Homo sapiens: one gene and its partner. The protein of the gene in region 1 interacts with the protein of each later gene in a biochemical or structural test. Each region holds a gene or a part of one and is shown on either strand. Other genes may lie near its edges. The genes, in order: HSH2D and FES.

Evidence for each region.
Region 2: of the proteins of HSH2D (region 1) and FES, one has a biochemical effect on the other in vitro, tested with the Homo sapiens proteins (one study listed by BioGRID).

What each region holds. Positions count from the first base shown.
Region 1 is NC_000019.10:16,137,355-16,147,682, forward strand, and holds the start of HSH2D (hematopoietic SH2 domain-containing protein), read left to right. Parts: upstream 1-6,330; 5' UTR 6,331-6,420; intron 6,421-10,328. UniProt on the Homo sapiens protein: May be a modulator of the apoptotic response through its ability to affect mitochondrial stability. Adapter protein involved in tyrosine kinase and CD28 signaling. Seems to affect CD28-mediated activation of the RE/AP element of the interleukin-2 promoter.
Region 2 is NC_000015.10:90,877,476-90,887,503, forward strand, and holds the start of FES (tyrosine-protein kinase Fes/Fps), read left to right. Parts: upstream 1-7,028; 5' UTR 7,029-7,069; exon of another isoform or gene 7,070-7,164; intron 7,165-7,561; 5' UTR 7,562-7,570; coding exon 7,571-7,783; intron 7,784-7,936; coding exon 7,937-8,110; intron 8,111-9,485; coding exon 9,486-9,582; intron 9,583-9,711; coding exon 9,712-9,895; intron 9,896-10,028. Other genes in the region: furin isoform 1 preproprotein, read left to right, coding at 52-140, 657-829, 1,289-1,501, 1,969-2,069, 2,196-2,299, 2,392-2,509, 2,619-2,798, 3,216-3,340 and 2 more. UniProt on the Homo sapiens protein: Tyrosine-protein kinase that acts downstream of cell surface receptors and plays a role in the regulation of the actin cytoskeleton, microtubule assembly, cell attachment and cell spreading.

The DNA of each region.
Region 1 (10,328 bases):
CGGTAGCTCACACCTATAATCCCAGCACTTTGGGAGGCCGACGTGGGTGGATCACTTGAGGTCAGGAGTTCGAGACCAGCCTGGCCAATATGGTGAAACCCCGTCTCTACTAAAAATACAAAAATTAGCCAGAAATCACTTGAACCAGGGAGGCGGAGGTTGCAATGAACCTAGATCATGCCACTGCACTCCAGCCTGGGCAACAGAGCGAGACTCCGTCTCAAAAAAAAAAAAAAAGAAAAAAAGAAGCAGGGTCTTGCTCTGTTGCCCAGGCTGGAGTGCAGTGGTGGGATCATGGCTCACTGCAGCCTCAACCTCCCAGGCTCAAGTGATCCTCCTGCCTTAGCCTCCCAAGTAGCTGGTACTACAGGTGCATACCACCACACCCAACTAATTGTTTTACTTTTTTGTAGAGATGGTGTCTCACTGCCCAGGCTGGTCTTGAACTGGCCTCAAGTGATCCTCCCACCTCAGCCTCCCAAAGTGTTGGGATTACAGGTGTGAGCCACCACACCCACCCTGTTATTACTATGACCACCATTGTTCATCTTGTTCCCCAAGAAAAGTGCAGTGGTGCAATCTTGGCTCACTGCAACTTCTGCCTCCTGGGTTCAAGCAATTCTCATGCCTCAGCCTCCCGAGTAGCTGGGATTACAGGTCCCGCCACCACGCCTGGCTAATTTTTGTATTTTTAGTAGAGATGGAGTTTCACCATGTTGGCCAGGCTAGTCTCAAACTCTTGACCTCAGGTGATCCACCCACCTTGGCCTCCCAAAGTGCTAGAATTACAGGTGTGAGCCACCGTGTCCAGCCAGTTCTGGACATTTCATATCAATGGAATCATGCACTAGGTGGCCTTTGTGTCTGGCTTCTCTCAGCATCATGTTTTTGGGGCTCATCCACATTGTAGCATGGAGCAGTGCTTCCTTCCTTTCTGTGGCTGAATCATATTTCATGGTGTGGATGATGGAACCACGTTTTGTTTACCCATTCATTCATTCATGGACATTTGGGTTGTTTCCACCGTTTGGACACCTTAGCTGTCATCATCTGTGCCTCAGACATACCAAGTTCTTTCCTACCACAGGGCCTTTGCCCGTGCTGATTTTGTTTGTTTGTTTGAGATGGAGTCTCGCTCTGTTGCCCAGGCTGGAGTGCAGTGGCAAGATCTCAGCTCACTGCACCCTCCGCCTCCCGGGTTCAAGCGATTCTTCTGCCTCAGCCTCCCGAGTAGCTGGGACTACAGGCGTGCGCCACCATGCCCAGCTAATTTTTGTATTTTTGGTAGAGACAGGGTTTCACCATGTTGGCCAGGCTGGTCTCGATCCCTTGACTTCATGATCTGCCTGCCTCAGTCTCCCAAAGTGCTGGGATTACAGGTTTGAGCCACCGCACCCAGCCTGCCCTTGCTATTTTCTTTTCTGCCTGACTGTCCTGCATGTGAACTCATTCAGCATCTGTCTCCTCATAGACTGTGGGCCCTAGAAGGGTGGGGACCATGCCAATCTTGCCTTTTTTTTTTGAGACACAGTCTCACTCTGTGACCCAGGCTGGAGTGCAGTGGCATGATCTCAGCTCACTGCAACCTCCATCTCCCAGTTCAAGCAATTCTTCTGCCTCAGCCTCCTGAGTATCTGGGATTACAGGCATGAGCCACTACGCCCAACTAATTTTTGTGTTTTTAGTATAGACAGGGTTTCCCCATGTTGGCCAGGCTGGTCTTGAACTCCTGACCTCAGGTGATCTGCCCACCTCGGCCTCCCGAAGAGCTGGGATTACAGGCATAAGCCACAGCACCCGGCCCGATCTTGCCTTCTGCTTCATCTGCAGCATCTAGCATGGTGCCCATCCAGAGCTGGGGCTCAGCCAGTGTTTGTGAAATCAATGAATGAATAGAATGAAGGCATTGTAGGAAGCTAAAATCATAAAATTACATCAAGTCCAGGGTTGGGCACAGTGGCTCATGCCTATAATCCCAACACTGGGAGGCTGGGGTGTGAGGATTGCTTGAGCTCAGGCGTTCTAGACCATCCTGGGCAACACAGCAAGACCCTGTCTACAAAATAAAAATTGAAAAATTAACCGGGCATGGTGGTGTGAGCTTGTGATTGCAGCTACTTGGGAGGCTGAGGCGGGAGGATCACTTGAGCCCGGGAGTTTGAGGTTGCAGGGAGCTATGATGGCACAGTGCACTTCAGCCTGGGCAACAGAGTGAGACCTTGTCTCTAAAAAGAATCGCATCAAACCCAGTGTTGGCAGAGCCTAAGGGCTTCCCCACTCCCTGACATGTATGGGCCCAGCATTTTCCCAGCACTAAGATGGCATTGTGGCCACCTCCCCCAAGAGCCACCCCACGTGAATCTGTGAATGGCCCACTTACCAGCTGCGGCCTCTGCTGAGAAGCCCAGATCTGTCTCCCTGGAGAACCTGGTATCAGAGAGAGGGGGCCTTGGAATTCTAGCCCCGTTATCTCCCCATCAGGGCACCTTCGTTTTCCCCTCCACACCCTTCCTTCCTCTGGGGGACGCATGTCCGTTTGCGGGCCGAGGCCTGCGGACACTGAGGGGTGTGGGGGTGATTCTGTTGCGACATCTGAAAGGAAGACGTTAGTTTGTGGGAGACCACATCACCCAAGCAGGTCAGGGGAAGCGAGGTTGGGCCGTTTGTGGTGAGGTCTTAGGGGACTGTGCTAGAGCTGGGCCAGCGTACCCCCATGTTCCTGGAAACTCTAAACCCCATGCAAATAAGAGCCCCGATGGTCAGACTTTCCCAGGAGGATCAGAGAAGTGAAGTGAAGTGAAGGCCAGGCCCGGTGGCTCATGCCTGTAATGCCAGCACTTTGGGAAGTCCAGGCAGGTAGATCGCTTGAGGCCAGGAGTTTGAGGCTGCAGTGAGTTGTACTTGCACCACTGCACTCCAGCCTGGGCAACAGAACAAGATCCTGTCTCAAAAAAATAAAAAATAAAAATAAATAAATAAATACTTCAGGCCTATAATCCCAGCACTTTGGGAGGCCAAGGTGGGCAGACCACTTGAGGTCAGGAGTTCAAGACCAACCTGGCCAACATGGTGAAACCCTGTCTCTACTAAAAATATAAAAATTAGCCAGGAGTGGTGGTGCACACTTATAATCTCAGCTACTGGGGAGACTGAGGCAGGAGAATCGCTTGAACCCGGGAGGTGGAGGTTGCAGTGAGCCAAGATCGCACCACTGTACTCCAGCCGGGGCGATAGAACAAGACATCATCTCAAAAATAAAAAGGCCAGATGCAGCAGCTGACACCTGTAATCCTAACACTTTGGGAGGCTGAGGCGGGAGGATCACTTGAACGAGACCAACCTGGCAACATGACAAAACCCCATCTCTTCAAAAATCCAAAAATTAGCCAGGCGTGGTGGTGGTGCTCCTGTAGTCCCAGCTACTCAGGAGGCTGAGATGGGAGGATCACTTGAGCCCAGGAAGTAGAGGCTGTGGTGAGCTGAGACTGCACCACTGCACTCCAGCCTGGGCAACAGAGTGAGGGGACCCTACTCAAAAAAAAAAGAAGAAGAAAAAGAGATTAGCCACAGAGAGGTGAAGTGAGTTGCCCAAGGCAGCTCAGCCCATGAGGTCTGAGGCCCAAGCCAGAGTCTCCCCCAGGCAAACACAAAGGCCTTGCTTGAATTAAGTCACAACAAAGAGTCCTGATTCTCTCACTCCCAACTCATCTCCATGTGCTGTGCTGGAGAGTTGCCTCTCCTAGCATCTTCACATGATTAAGGAGGGCTATTATGCCCATTGCACAGATGCAGAACTGAGGCTCAGAGAGGCTGAGCAACTCACCTTAGGACACACAGCAGGTGAGTGAGAAGCAGGGCTCCACGTGTCTCCTGCTTAGACCTTGTTGACCACAGAGGGCAGACGAGGTGCTGCTGTTGCCGAGGAGGAGCAGGGGGGTGAGAGAGGCACCCAGGGTGAGCCTGGGGTTATCTAGCCCAGCTGGGCCAGGGCAATAGGCCCTTGGGGAGGCCCCCAGTAGGATCTGGGCCCTTTCTGCCTGAAAGGAGAGGAGGAAGTAGTTTTGTTTGTCTGCCTGGGGTACGAGCACACGGCCAGAGCTGGCCAATCTGTTAGGCACACAGGGCCTGCACCCAGGACCCAAGTGCTGTGTGGGACTTCCCAAAGGGCTTCAGCTTATTTAAAATCAGAAGAAAAAAAACTGAACATCCTAATAATAAATATACAATAAGGAATCCAGCCTGGACCACATCGGTCTTAATGCCAACACAGTTGTAAAATAGAATTTTAAGCTGGCACGGCGGCCCACACCTGTAATCCCAGCACTTTGGGAGGCTGAGGCGGGTGGATCACCTGAGGTCAGGAGTTTGAGACCAGCCTGGCCAACATAGTGAAACCTTGTCTCTACTAAAAATACAAACATTAGCCAGGCGTGTTGGTGGGCACCTCTAATCCCAGCTACTCAGGAGGCTGAGGCAGGAGAGTCACTTGAACCAAGGTGGGCGGATCGCTTGAGCCCCAGGAGTTTGAGACCAGCCTGGGCAACACAGCAAGATCCCATCTCCAAAAAAAATATTTTTTTAATTAGTCAGGTGTGGTGGTGTGTGCCTGTAGTCCCAGCTACTTGGGAGCCTGAGGCAGGAGGATCACTTGAGTCCAGCAGTTCAAGACTGCAGTGAGCTATGATCATACCACTGCACTCCAGCCTGAGTGACAGAGTGAAACTCTGTCTCTAAAATAGGTTAGTCAATTAATAAAAATATTTTAAAATATTTTATAATGGAGGAAGTCCTGGTGTGGACCTATGCGTGCCATGAGACCCCAGCCTGTCCAGGCTCAATTCAGTTTCAAGGCCTTTGTGCCTGCTCTTCCCTCCCCCAGCCTGGGCAATATAGCAAGACCCCATCTCTACAAAAAAATATACTCTTTCTGCACTACGCACTCCCCAAATCAAGATGATTCCTTCTCACCCTCAAATGCCCCTTCCTTCACGTCAGTTAGGTCACCTCTGTGGGTTTGTGCAACTGCTGTTCCCACTTCCTGTTTCCCCTTTGGATTTTTTTGTTTGTTTGGGGTTTTTTGTTTTTTTGTTTTGTTTTGTTTGGTTTTCGTTGGTTTTGTTTTGTTTGAGACGGAGTTACACTCTCGCTGCCCAGGCTGGAGTGCAGTGGTGAGATCTCAGCAAACCGCAACCTCCACCTCCCGGGTTCAAGCGATTCTCCTGCCTCAGCCTCCCAAATAGCTGGGATTACAGGCATGTGTCACCACGCCGGGCTAATTTTGCAGTTTTAGTAGAGACGGGATTTCTCCATGTTGGTCAGGCTGGTCGCGAACTCCTGACCTCAAATGATCTGCCCACCTTGGCCTCCCAAAGTGCTGGGATTACAGGCATGAGCCACCGCACCCAGCTGGTGTTTTTTTGTTTGTTTGTTTTGCGGGGGACAGAATTTCCCTCTGTCATCCAGGCTAAAGTGCAGTGGCGTGATCTCGGCTCACTGCAGCCTCTGCGTCCCTGGTCCAAGCGATTCTCTTGCATCAGCCTCCTGAGTAGCTGGGATTACAGGCACCCGCCACCACGCCTAATTTTTGTATTTTTAGTAGAGACAGGGTTTTACCATGTTGGCCAGCCTGGTCTCAAACTCCTGGCCTCAAATGATCCACCCGCCTCGGCCTCCCAAAGTGCTGGGATTACAGGCGTGAGCCACCGCGCCCAGTTTCTGTTCCCCCTTTGTTGCTTTTGTTTTTGTTTTGAGAAGGAGTCTCACTCCGTTGCCCAGGCTGGAGTGCAATGGTGCGATCTCTGCTCACTGCAACCTCCGCCTCCCGGGTTCAAGCAATTCTTGTGCCTCAGCCTCCTGAGTAGCTGGGATTACAGGCGTGCGCCGCCACACCCGGCTGATTTTCGTATTTTAATAGAGACGGGGTTTTGCCATGTTTGCCAGGCTGGTCTCAAACTCCTGACCTCAAGTGATCCGCCTGCCTCAGCCTGTCAAAGTGCTGGGATTGCAGGTGTGAGCCACCGCACCCGTTCCCCGTTCTCCCTTTGTAATGATGTCTCACTCCTCTTCACTGCTTGATAGATTATAGATGCCAGGAGTCAGGGGGCCTGCACCTGTCTCCGTGTCACCCCTGTGTCCTCCAAACAGCAGGCACACAGTAGGTGCTCAATAACAACTTGCTGGGGGCAAGACAGGAGCAAGCTGTCTCTGCACCTGTGGCACCAGATGCTTTGTTGGACTGCAGACAGGGTGACTTGAGCTGTCCTTGTTCCGCCCCCAGGGCTCACCTGCTTGAGGAAACAGGAACTGCCTCGGGGCAGCCAGCCCCGCCCCATTGACGTGCAGACCTTGAATCGAAACCCAGGCTCCTGCAGGCACTGGCACAGCTACAGCGAGGGCCTCGGCCATCCAAGGGTCTCCCAGGTATGTGACCCAAGAGCCTCAGCCCTCGAGGAGACAGAACGTGGGGGCTGGGCTAGGCCAGAAGGAGGGACAGGGCTAGTGGGGCCTGGGGTGGCAGGAGGGATTTTCTAGGGGCATGGGGGAGAGCTTCGTGGAGGAGGGGGTATTTGTGGTGACCACAAATGGAAAATGGAGCTGGAGTTAGGGAAAAGGGGGTCTTGGCAAGACAACAGCATGAGCAAAGGTATGGAGAGGCAAGAGAGAGAGAGCAAGGATGTCTTTAGGTCTAGAATGTGGGTAGCGGGGAAGTAGAGGAGGCTCCCAGGCCAGGGTCAGGAGCTTGAATTTGAGCATGCGGTCTTTCATCACTAGATAGCTGTTCACCAGCAAAGACCCTTGCACCCTCCTCTGTGCCAGGCCAGCACCAGGACACAGAAAAAAACAACAACACAGGAACCTAGCCCTAAGCCCTGATCCCTAGGAGGCCCTCAGGCTGGTGGAGACAGAGCAAGATAAAGACACTCTAGCTCCATGGAGTCATGGCTGGACCAGAGAGAGGAACAGGGGGGAACGTTGGGGACAGAGAGGGGTGCCAGGGTGTTGTCTGGGGGGAGATGCAGGAAAGCTGCCTGGAGGAGGGGACATTTTTACTGGGTTTTGAAGGATAAATAGGAGCTCTTCCAAGTAAAAAAAAAGAATAAGCCTGTAAACATTACCCCATGATAGGTCACAACTGGATTCATGAATATTGTATATATATCTCTATATATACACAGTGCTAGCTAAACTTTCCTAGGTAAATATCATTATTCCCAAATTAAAGACAGAAATACAGGGACAGAGAGCCATTAAGTGACTTATCTGAGGTCACACAGCGGCTAAGTGGGCGAGCTAGGGTTTGAACCCAGGCCATCTGGGTCGAATTCTAGGCTCTTTTTTTTTTTTTTTTTTTTTTTTGAGACGGAGTCTTGCTCTGTCGCCCAGGCTGGAGTGCAGTGGCTCGATCTCAGCTCACTGCAAGCTCTGCCTCCCGAGTTCACGCCATTCTCCTGCCTCAGCCTCCCAAGTAGCTGAGACTACAGGCGCCCGCCACCACACCCAGCTAATTTTTCGTATTTTTAGTAGAGACGGGGTTTCACCATGTTAGCCAGGATGGTCTCAATCTCCTGACCTCGTGATCTGCCTGCCTCAGCCTCCCAAAGTGCTGAGATTACAGGCATGAGCCACCGCACCTGTCCCAGGCTCTTTTTTTGTTGTTGGTGGTGATGGGTTTTTTTTTTGGGGTTTTTTTTTTTTTTTTTGTGAGACAGAGTTTCGCTCTGTTGCTCAGGCTGGAGTGCAGTGGTGCGATCTTGGCTCACTGCAAACTCTGCCTCCCGAGTTCAGATGATTCTCCTGCCTCAGCCTCCTGAGTAGCTGAGACTACAGGCACATGCCACTGTAAGTTTTGTATTTTTATTTCATATTTATTTATTTTGAGATGGAGTCTTGCTCTGTTGCCCAGGCTGGAGTGCAGTGGCTCGATCTCAGCTCACTGCAACCTCCGCCTCCCAGATTCACGCAATTCTCCTGCCTCAGCCTCCTGAGTAGCTGGGATTACAGGGGTGAGCCACCTTGCCCAGATAATGATTGTCTTTTTATTAGAGATGGGGTTTCACCATGTTGGCCAGGCTGGTCTCAAACTCCCAGCCTCAGGCAATCCGCCTGCCTCAGGCTCTGACAGTGCTGGGATTACAGGTGTGAGCTACTGCACCCAGCCTCCAATTCCAGGCTCTTAATCATTTTGTCACCCTGCTTTATTAAACATTTCTTAATACAGTTATTTAATTTTGGTTGCCCCAGAATTCCCTCAGGCCATACCCCAGAGGGTATGCTTGACATCTGGTTGGAGAAAGTCAATATTGACTGCCATTGGTCAACAGACCCCGCCTCCTCATAGAGACAGCCCAGTAAAAAGATCTTTTGAGATATTGAAACATTAGATGGGGCCAATGGGTGGAGGGAGTGAGCTCCAGTTTAAGGACAGAATTTATGGTGAGTGGCCGGGCGCAGTGGCTCACGCCTGTAATCCCAGCACTTTGGGAGGCCAAGGTGGGTGGATCACTTGAGGTCAGGATTTGGAGACCAGCCTGGCCAACATGGTGAAACCCCATCCCTGCTAAAAATACAAAAATGATCCAGGCGTGGTGGCACATGCCTGTAATCCCAGCTATTCAAGAGGCTAAGGCAGGAGAATCACTTGAACCTGGGAGGCGGAAGTTGCAGTGAGCTGAGATCGCGCCACTGCACTCCAGCCTGGGCAACAGAGCGAGATTCCATCTCAAAAAAAAAAAAAAAAAAGAATTAAGGGTGAGCAAGAGGGGTCCTGAAGGAACTATCTAGCAAGATACAATCCTTTGGCTTGTCTTACACTCACTTAATAATGTTTTGCAAAACGGTGCTGCTTTCTCTCTCCAGCTCTGTCATTGGTACACAAAGTCCCATGGTACCGCTTGCTTAAAATTGTCAAGAAAGTGTGTGAATTAATGATGCATCTGACATATCGTAGGTGTGCCATGAGTGGCTACAACGTGTAGTGACGTTGGTGGCAGAAGTGACTGTCTGAAGCCACATTTCTCTGGTGTTTAATGAAACCAAGGCAGCCAGGCACTGTGGCTCATGCCTGTGATCCCAGTATGTTGGGAGGCTGAGGTGTTAGGATTGCTTGAGCCCAGGAGTTCAAAGCCAGACTGGACAACAGAGCAAGACCCTGTTTCTACAAAAAAATTTTCAAAATTAGCCAGGCATGGTACTGCATGCCTGTAGTCCCAACTACTCAGGAGGTTGAAGTGGGAGGATTGCTTGAGCCTAGGAGGTTGAGGCTGCAGTGAGCATGAGCTGTGATTGCACCATTGCACACTCCAGCCTCAGGAACAGAGGGAAACCCTGTCTCAAAAAAAAAGAAAGAAAGAAATCAGGGCAACCCTTTTTGACCACCACCGTTGGGTCAGCTGTTTATTTCGTTCACTTGCCATTTTGTCATTTCCTTATTCCTCCAGGGGCCTTGATATTTACTTAATATTTAAATACTCTACTCTTTTTTTTTTTTTTGAGATGGAGTCTCACTCTGCCCCCCAGGCTGGAGTGCAATGGCGCGATCTTGGCTCACTGCAACCTCTGCCTCCTGAGTTCTAGCAATTCTCCTGCCTCAGCCTCCTGAGTAGCTGGGATTACAGGCACCCACCACCTCATCTGGCTAATTTTTGTATTTTTAGTAGAGATGGGGTTTCACCATGTTGGCCAGGCTGGCCTCGAACTCCTGACCTCAGGTGATCCACCTGCCTCAGCCTCCCAAAGTGCTGGGATTACAGGCGTGAACCACCATGCCCAGCTCTAAATACTCTATTCTTAAATTTCAAAACATTTATTTATAAAATGAACTTTCTAGTCCTTGCAATAATGGCATAAAAGGCTGGGCACAATGGCTCACACCTGTAATGCTAGCACTTTGGGAGGCTGACACAGGTGGATTTCTTGAGTCCAGGAGTTTGAGACCAATGTGGGCAGCAAGGTGAAACCCCATCTCTACAAAAATACAAAAATTAGCCAGGCGTGGTGGCACATGCCTGTGGTCCCAGCTACTTGGGGGACTGAGGTGGGAGAATCACTTGAGGGAAGAAGGTCGAGGCTGCAGTGAGCCAAGATGGGGCCACTGCACTCCAGCCTGGGTGACAGAGTGAGACCCTGTCTCAAAAAAAAAAAAAAAGAAAAAAAACACAATGGCATAAGAAGAATAAAAGGAAAAGTCCTTGAAGGCCTTTGGGGATGAGCCAATGAATGAATGTGTAAAAACTATCAGGCACATAGTAGGTGCCCAAAAAATCACAAGCCAGTGGTTTTTTTTTTGTTTTGTTTTGTTTTGTTTTGTTTTGAGACGGAGTCTCACTCTG
Region 2 (10,028 bases), on another chromosome or scaffold:
GCCCTGTTCACCCCATTTGTTCTACTCATGCTACGTGCTTGGCCCTGGCAGGCACGGCACACGGTGTGCGGGGGAAGTGGCTGCGGTGGCCAACAACGGTGTCTGTGGTGTAGGTGTGGCCTACAACGCCCGCATTGGAGGTGAGTGTGGGCCTGGGCCACCCTGTCTTCAGGAGGGCCCTTCAGTGGAATTTTTCCCGCCCACTTCCCATCTGGCCAATGCCTGCCACTTTCCCACTGTGGATCCTTTGATCACGTGGCTGTTCCATGGAGGGTTCCCAAAGGGTCAAAGACTGAAAGAGCTGGACCCCTGTGGAGTGAGGGTTTCCTAGCAGGAGTCTCCTGAAATCCTCACGACCCACTGTGAGTCCTCACGTGGCAGATCCTTGATCACCAGGCTCTTTTGGGAACCAGAGACTCTTTCTAGTCCTGAATGTGTGGTTGGGGGCAGGAGGTGTTCTCTTTTTCCTTCTCTGGGTCTTGTCTTTGAAAGGCAGAGGCAAACAGGTAGTTGGGGGTTCAGGGTTTCTCAGCATCAGCCTCCACCCTTCCCTTACTCATCCCCTGGGGTGCAGGGCTGGGTGTGCTCCTTGGGGTGGGGGCCCTGACAGCTGGACCCATGCAGCATCCCTCTTCGTGCCCCCCCTTCACGGCCAGGGGTGCGCATGCTGGATGGCGAGGTGACAGATGCAGTGGAGGCACGCTCGCTGGGCCTGAACCCCAACCACATCCACATCTACAGTGCCAGCTGGGGCCCCGAGGATGACGGCAAGACAGTGGATGGGCCAGCCCGCCTCGCCGAGGAGGCCTTCTTCCGTGGGGTTAGCCAGGTGAGGTGGGGATCTGTCCAGCCCCTGCGGGCAGGTTGGGTGCTGTCTTCCGTACCTATCTTGTGTTTTTTGGTTTGTTTTATTTATTCTCATGTTTAACTTTACACAAAGCATGTTTATTGAAACATTAAGGGACAGAAGAAGAGTAGAGTGCATATACCACTTGGACTTGCCTAATTAAAAAACACATTTTTTTTAGAAATGAGGTCTTGCTGTGTTACCCAGGCTGGTCTCAAACTCCTGGCCTCAAGCGATCCTCCCGCCTTGGCCTCTTGGTCTGATTTTTTGTGTGCCTAGATAGACATATTTGGATACATACTTGATCCACCAGGGATCTCACAGGGGACAGGAGGTTCCCAGAGAATGAGGCTCCAGCCTTCCCAGTTTTCCAGCAGTGTCCTCCTGCCAGCCCTCCCTCAAGTCCCAATCTTGAATGACCCCAGCCCACTCTGTCCACAGGGCCGAGGGGGGCTGGGCTCCATCTTTGTCTGGGCCTCGGGGAACGGGGGCCGGGAACATGACAGCTGCAACTGCGACGGCTACACCAACAGTATCTACACGCTGTCCATCAGCAGCGCCACGCAGTTTGGCAACGTGCCGTGGTACAGCGAGGCCTGCTCGTCCACACTGGCCACGACCTACAGCAGTGGCAACCAGAATGAGAAGCAGATCGTGAGTCTTACCTGGGGGTGGGGGCTGGGGAGATGGGGCTGCTGGCTGGCTCTGTCCAGCACCCTCTTTTGGAGGCTGTCTGCCTCCACCCCCATGTGGCTGGGTGATAGTGGCTCAGGCATCATGCAACATGAACTCTGGGGCTCTGTAGGTTCTTGGAGGCCATGGAGCCATCTCTGAAGACTTTGAAAAGCCTAGACTCTCTCTAAAAACATACTTTGTTCTTATTCATCTCCACCCTCTAGTTGAACCCCCTTATTCCTTTGGAAAATGAGGCCCAGGAGGGGCTCGTCATTAGCATGTCCACGGCAAGTTAGCAAGGCAGCAGCTGGGACCTGGGGTTCTTGGCCCTGGCTCCCCATACCATCTGTGGTGCCCAGGGCCTGTATGCAGAGGGAGGGTAGGCAGGTGGCTCCTCTAGCCCCCTCCACCCATCACAGGCCCCAATATGATTCTCTTCCTGGCAGGTGACGACTGACTTGCGGCAGAAGTGCACGGAGTCTCACACGGGCACCTCAGCCTCTGCCCCCTTAGCAGCCGGCATCATTGCTCTCACCCTGGAGGCCAAGTAAGTGGGTGGGGGCCAGCGGCAACCCTGTCCCTACCAGCACTCTCTGTAGGGCAGCCCTTAGGGCAGCTGGAGAGCTGCTCCCAAAAAAGACTGATCCCCAGCCTCTCCCTTCCTTCTTTGCAGTAAGAACCTCACATGGCGGGACATGCAACACCTGGTGGTACAGACCTCGAAGCCAGCCCACCTCAATGCCAACGACTGGGCCACCAATGGTGTGGGCCGGAAAGGTGAGGGCAGGCTGGCCCGGCAGGCTGGATGTGGAGTTAGGTAGAAGGCACTCTGTGCCTGACAGCTGACCCTACCTTCCCTGTCCCCACAGTGAGCCACTCATATGGCTACGGGCTTTTGGACGCAGGCGCCATGGTGGCCCTGGCCCAGAATTGGACCACAGTGGCCCCCCAGCGGAAGTGCATCATCGACATCCTCACCGAGCCCAAGTGAGGGCTGGACCCAGGCTGGGAGGGGGCCAGTGGGACCTGAGAGTCGCAGGGGGTGCCCGCTGGTCCCTCTGGGCCAGGCTGACCATCATGGTGCTCTCCTGCACAGAGACATCGGGAAACGGCTCGAGGTGCGGAAGACCGTGACCGCGTGCCTGGGCGAGCCCAACCACATCACTCGGCTGGAGCACGCTCAGGCGCGGCTCACCCTGTCCTATAATCGCCGTGGCGACCTGGCCATCCACCTGGTCAGCCCCATGGGCACCCGCTCCACCCTGCTGGCAGCCAGGTGCTTGCTCTGTCCCTGCCCGCCCTGCCCAGCGCCGCCGCCTCTCACAGCCCGCGTGCTTGCCTTTGCTCGCTCACACGGCCCAGGGGGCACTGAGTGCTACTCAGTGGGGCACTCTTGGCATTTTGGGAGGGACAATTTTGTCCTGTGGGACTGTCCCATGTTGCAGGAATCCCTGGCTTGCAACCATTTAATGTCAGTAGTGTGCCCCACCTTGTGCGGTGCCTGTGTACCTTTCTAGAATCCCCCAGTTGAGCACGTCTGGCTCACTGAGAAACAGCCAAGCCAGCAGGCACTTCTGGCCCCATGGGGTTGGTCTGCGTGGGGGAAGGGTGTGTGGCCCATGTGCTGTGGGTTAGATGTCCCTGGCTTGGGGTCCCGCAGAGGCCTCAGGGCTGTGTGCACTCCCCTCCCCAGGCCACATGACTACTCCGCAGATGGGTTTAATGACTGGGCCTTCATGACAACTCATTCCTGGGATGAGGATCCCTCTGGCGAGTGGGTCCTAGAGATTGAAAACACCAGCGAAGCCAACAACTATGGTACTGGGGGCACTTGAGGGGTAGGGGTACGAGGTGGAGGGCTGGCAGGATCTCGAGCACTGGGTGTGGTGCCAGCACTGTCTTAACTCTTGCCTCCTCCCCGCTCTGGAACAGGGACGCTGACCAAGTTCACCCTCGTACTCTATGGCACCGCCCCTGAGGGGCTGCCCGTACCTCCAGAAAGCAGTGGCTGCAAGACCCTCACGTCCAGTCAGGCCTGTGTGGGTCAGTAGTGGGTGCTGTTGGGCTTTGGGGGCCTGAGTCTGGGGGTAAGGCGGGTGCCTGTCCTGAAGCCCAGCTCTAACAGAAAAAAGTCTCAAGAGACCTAGGGCCCCTGGGGCTCTTGGGATGACCACAGTCCTGGGGCTGGAGGATCCTGGGGATGTGGTGACTTGGCTTGGGGCTGCTGTGGTCCTGGGGCTACAGTCTGTTTAGCTGACACACACTTGCCCTCTCTCCCACGCCGGCAGTGTGCGAGGAAGGCTTCTCCCTGCACCAGAAGAGCTGTGTCCAGCACTGCCCTCCAGGGTTCGCCCCCCAAGTCCTCGATACGCACTATAGCACCGAGAATGACGTGGAGACCATCCGGGCCAGCGTCTGCGCCCCCTGCCACGCCTCATGTGCCACATGCCAGGGGCCGGCCCTGACAGACTGCCTCAGCTGCCCCAGCCACGCCTCCTTGGACCCTGTGGAGCAGACTTGCTCCCGGCAAAGCCAGAGCAGCCGAGAGTCCCCGCCACAGCAGCAGCCACCTCGGCTGCCCCCGGAGGTGGAGGCGGGGCAACGGCTGCGGGCAGGGCTGCTGCCCTCACACCTGCCTGAGGTGGTGGCCGGCCTCAGCTGCGCCTTCATCGTGCTGGTCTTCGTCACTGTCTTCCTGGTCCTGCAGCTGCGCTCTGGCTTTAGTTTTCGGGGGGTGAAGGTGTACACCATGGACCGTGGCCTCATCTCCTACAAGGGGCTGCCCCCTGAAGCCTGGCAGGAGGAGTGCCCGTCTGACTCAGAAGAGGACGAGGGCCGGGGCGAGAGGACCGCCTTTATCAAAGACCAGAGCGCCCTCTGATGAGCCCACTGCCCACCCCCTCAAGCCAATCCCCTCCTTGGGCACTTTTTAATTCACCAAAGTATTTTTTTATCTTGGGACTGGGTTTGGACCCCAGCTGGGAGGCAAGAGGGGTGGAGACTGCTTCCCATCCTACCCTCGGGCCCACCTGGCCACCTGAGGTGGGCCCAGGACCAGCTGGGGCGTGGGGAGGGCCGTACCCCACCCTCAGCACCCCTTCCATGTGGAGAAAGGAGTGAAACCTTTAGGGCAGCTTGCCCCGGCCCCGGCCCCAGCCAGAGTTCCTGCGGAGTGAAGAGGGGCAGCCCTTGCTTGTTGGGATTCCTGACCCAGGCCGCAGCTCTTGCCCTTCCCTGTCCCTCTAAAGCAATAATGGTCCCATCCAGGCAGTCGGGGGCTGGCCTAGGAGATATCTGAGGGAGGAGGCCACCTCTCCAAGGGCTTCTGCACCCTCCACCCTGTCCCCCAGCTCTGGTGAGTCTTGGCGGCAGCAGCCATCATAGGAAGGGACCAAGGCAAGGCAGGTGCCTCCAGGTGTGCACGTGGCATGTGGCCTGTGGCCTGTGTCCCATGACCCACCCCTGTGCTCCGTGCCTCCACCACCACTGGCCACCAGGCTGGCGCAGCCAAGGCCGAAGCTCTGGCTGAACCCTGTGCTGGTGTCCTGACCACCCTCCCCTCTCTTGCACCCGCCTCTCCCGTCAGGGCCCAAGTCCCTGTTTTCTGAGCCCGGGCTGCCTGGGCTGTTGGCACTCACAGACCTGGAGCCCCTGGGTGGGTGGTGGGGAGGGGCGCTGGCCCAGCCGGCCTCTCTGGCCTCCCACCCGATGCTGCTTTCCCCTGTGGGGATCTCAGGGGCTGTTTGAGGATATATTTTCACTTTGTGATTATTTCACTTTAGATGCTGATGATTTGTTTTTGTATTTTTAATGGGGGTAGCAGCTGGACTACCCACGTTCTCACACCCACCGTCCGCCCTGCTCCTCCCTGGCTGCCCTGGCCCTGAGGTGTGGGGGCTGCAGCATGTTGCTGAGGAGTGAGGAATAGTTGAGCCCCAAGTCCTGAAGAGGCGGGCCAGCCAGGCGGGCTCAAGGAAAGGGGGTCCCAGTGGGAGGGGCAGGCTGACATCTGTGTTTCAAGTGGGGCTCGCCATGCCGGGGGTTCATAGGTCACTGGCTCTCCAAGTGCCAGAGGTGGGCAGGTGGTGGCACTGAGCCCCCCCAACACTGTGCCCTGGTGGAGAAAGCACTGACCTGTCATGCCCCCCTCAAACCTCCTCTTCTGACGTGCCTTTTGCACCCCTCCCATTAGGACAATCAGTCCCCTCCCATCTGGGAGTCCCCTTTTCTTTTCTACCCTAGCCATTCCTGGTACCCAGCCATCTGCCCAGGGGTGCCCCCTCCTCTCCCATCCCCCTGCCCTCGTGGCCAGCCCGGCTGGTTTTGTAAGATGCTGGGTTGGTGCACAGTGATTTTTTTCTTGTAATTTAAACAGGCCCAGCATTGCTGGTTCTATTTAATGGACATGAGATAATGTTAGAGGTTTTAAAGTGATTAAACGTGCAGACTATGCAAACCAGGCCCAGTCTCCAGTGTGGTACCGTTGCTCCTGCATCGCAGCTGAGGATAGGGGGCCAGTTAGGCCTACACAGTGGCCTGCCTGCCTGGATGTGGGCCCAAGTCAGAAGGCCAAAGTCCTCCAAGGGGCGGGAGGATGCGCCAGCCCCTAGTGGAGGAGCTGGTGCCCCTGGGGTGGGGCTGGTGACCCCTGGTCCTCAGGAGCTGAGCACTAAACTCCCAAAGTCCTGGTTTCCAGCAGTGTGAAGAACTGGGCCTATTGTGTCTTCCTGGGCTGAAGTGATCTGGTCGCCACAGGCTATAGGGCTGAGGCCTAAGGTGGAGGGAGGCCTGACTGAATCAAGATGACTTCTTGTGGGGAGCCTGAGTCCCAAATGGAAAACTCCACGCCTGTCCGCTCCCCAACCCCTGCCCCTTGATTTCCCCAGGTCTCCCTTGGGACAGGAAGCCCCTGCCTGGGGGTAGGAGGATGGGGACAAAACCACTAGGATCTGTATCCGAGAAGCAGTCTCTGTTCGGGATATTTACTTGGAAATTTTATTCAAATGGAAGCTGGCGCCTGAGCCTCTCCTTAGGGAATTCCGTGAGGTGGGGAGGGCTGGGACCAGGGTTCCCTCTTTCTCTTCTGCGGTGGCCCTGGCCTGGTGCTAGGACTGCGCGCCTCCCCTCAGTACCCGCGGACACCCTGGGCTTCCCTGGGCCCAGCATCTGCCTGGGGCCTCGCCCTGGGCTCCCCCTCCTGACCCCCACCTTGCGCCCCTTCCCGGTGTTCCCGGGGCGCTGCCGGGCCCTGGGGCCTGCGGGGCGCGGGCGGCTCTTGGCTGGGCCATTCTTTCCCGGCCCCCTCCTCCCTTCCGTTTCCGTGGCCGTGCGGCCGGCTAGAGGCTGCGGCCCAGCGCGGAGCAGGGGGGCTGGCAGGCGTCGGGGCGGTCGGGCCGGTCCCGCCCGCCCCTTCCCCTCCACAGGCCCGCCCCGGGGCCTGGGCCAACTGAAACCGCGGGAGGAGGAAGCGCGGAATCAGGAACTGGCCGGGGTCCGCACCGGGCCTGAGTCGGTCCGAGGCCGTCCCAGGAGCAGCTGCCCGTGCGGGTACCTCTAGCCCCGGGGCCTGGAGGAGCGGTGGGAGCTGGGGGCGCGGCAGGCAGGGGCAGAGCAGGCGTTCCGAGGGCCAGAGACCCACCCAGGTGGGGGTAGGGGCCGCGGAAGGGCGGGGATGGCCGCAGGGGCAGGGCTCAGGCTGTGGGCGCCTGAGGCTTCAGCTGGGGCAGGCTTGGCCTGTCGAGGACCTGGGCAAGGGTGTCCCTGTAAGGGGTGGTGGGTGGAAGGGCCTGGGGAGGGAGGCTCCAGGTTGGCTCCTGTTCCCGAACGTGCGGAGGAGACCCTGACGCTAAGGAAGCAATGAGGGCCAGTCCCCAGGCCAGGCTGCTGCTGGGTACCCATGGCTGCGTGTGAGCGAGGCAGGACCCCACCTCCTCCCCGTCTGCAGTCCATCCTGACCCTACAGTCCCCAGTCTCCTCGTCCCATGCCTCCGTCTCCAGCTGCTGCCTTGCCTCCAGGGATGGCCCCTTTTCTGTCCCCAGAACAGCACTATGGGCTTCTCTTCCGAGCTGTGCAGCCCCCAGGGCCACGGGGTCCTGCAGCAAATGCAGGAGGCCGAGCTTCGTCTACTGGAGGGCATGAGAAAGTGGATGGCCCAGCGGGTCAAGAGTGACAGGGAGTATGCAGGACTGCTTCACCACATGTCCCTGCAGGACAGTGGGGGCCAGAGCCGGGCCATCAGCCCTGACAGCCCCATCAGTCAGGTGGGTCTCTATGGGACTCTGGTGGGTGCTGGCTGTATCTGCCTTCTCCTTCCTCTCCTGGGGGCCCTCTGGGGCAGTGGCTGGAGATCTGGCAGGCCAATGCTTGGGAGCCATTGTGCCCCCCTCCCTGCCTCCCCCATCTGTGCTGTATAGTCCTGGGCTGAGATCACCAGCCAAACTGAGGGCCTGAGCCGCTTGCTGCGGCAGCACGCAGAGGATCTGAACTCAGGGCCCCTGAGCAAGCTGAGCCTGCTCATCCGGGAACGGCAGCAGCTTCGCAAGACCTACAGCGAGCAGTGGCAGCAGCTGCAGCAGGAGCTCACCAAGGTGAGCGGGCAGCACTGGGGCTTCGGTCATTTCTGTCTAAATTTTGAGCCTCGAAGGGGTTGTTTTGCACAAGAGGCCCTGGATTCACTGGGGAAGTGTAAGTCCCTGACCGCAGGCCTGGCTTGCTCTAACCTTGATGCAGCTTCCTCTCTTCCTTCCCCTACGTTGAGCTGGCTTGCAGCAAGGCCTCTCTGTGCTTTTTCTGTGCCTGGGCAAAGTGCTGGGAGTGTAAGGATGAGTGACCGGTCACGTGCCTGGGAGAAGCTCAGAATCGGTACTCGCCTCCACACTGTGCCATCTGGCTCTGGGTTCTGAGAGTCAGGGAGAGGAATGAGGGTCAGTCTGTTTGCCTTCGACCTAGGCAGCCTCCTCTCAGGGCCCCAGAGACTGGGCAGCAGCATGGCCCCCCGAAGGTCGAGGATTCGGGCCGTGAAGTCAGCCTGCCTAGGTTTGAATCCCACCCAGCTCCTCAGTCTAGAGGCTGTGTGATTTGGAACTATTTATCTGGGAGCCTAGTGCCCCCATTCAGTGTGCTGGTCACCCTCCCTGCACCACACCCCTTCCTCAAGTGCAGAGCCCAGCCTTGCCATGGACCCACAGCGGCCCCTGGTGGCCACCCTGGCCCCATTCCTCGCCCCAAAAGATCATCTGATTCAAGGGTGGGCCCATTTTTATAAAGTTTTGCTGGAACACAGCTATGCCCTTTTGTTTTCATATTGTCTGTGACTACAATGACAGAGTTGAGTAATTGTGACAGAGGCTCTATGGCCTACAAGCGTAAAATATTTATTTACTATCTGGCCCTTTAAGAAAAAGACTGATCTAGTCGAGGAATCTAGCTCAGTTACAGATGGGGAAACTGAGGTTGGGCGCTTGCCCAACATATCCCAGCACATAAACAGGAGAACTGGGACGAGAACACTGATCTCGGGCTGTCATCTATTCCTACTGCCAAGAACATAATTTGCAGGACCCAGTGCAAAGTGAAATTGTGGGGGTCTTTGTTAAAAGATTGCTAGGAATTTCCAGGTGGCAATAATGGAGAATGAAACCAAGCACAGGGCCCTTCTACATGTGGAGCCCCGTGTGACTGCACAGGCCGTGCACACCTGCAACTGGCCCTGCCTGCCACCAGGCTACCACTGTCAGTCCAAGGAGGGACCATTGTAGCCTGTAGTCTACCTCTTTGCCTCCCCAAGGGGTCTGTCTTTAACAGGCTCTCTGATCTTTGACTCTCACGTCAGCAGCCAGCTTTCCCAGAAGTCTCCAGGTGCTCCTTGCCTGACGACAGGACCTTTCCAGGGCTTCACCCCAGGCAAGAATCTTCCACAACTGGGGACCTGCTGCCCCACACTGGCCTCTCCTCTCTCCCTAGACCCACAGCCAGGACATTGAGAAGCTGAAGAGCCAGTACCGAGCTCTGGCACGGGACAGTGCCCAAGCCAAGCGCAAGTACCAGGAGGCCAGCAAAGGTTCGTGGCTTCCCTTGCTGGCAGGGAGGGAATCCGAAGCCAGTGCTGACCTGTCCTTGGGTACCCAGAGAGTGGGGGCTGCCTGGGCCTCCATGCTGTCATCTATACCCCTTGCCCCCCTTCTGGCAGACAAGGACCGTGACAAGGCTAAGGACAAGTATGTGCGCAGCCTGTGGAAGCTCTTTGCTCACCACAACCGCTATGTGCTGGGCGTGCGGGCTGCGCAGCTACACCACCAGCACCACCACCAGCTCCTGCTGCCCGGCCTGCTGCGGTCACTGCAGGACCTGCACGAGGAGATGGCTTGCATCCTGTAAGCCCGCAGCCCCGTCCCCTGGCCCCCACCCTTGAGCAGCCCTAAGCCCAGCCATCAGGCCCAGAGGCAGGACCCAGAAAATCCATTGCTGGGAAGGTGCTGGCCATGTAACCACATGAGAACGGGACCT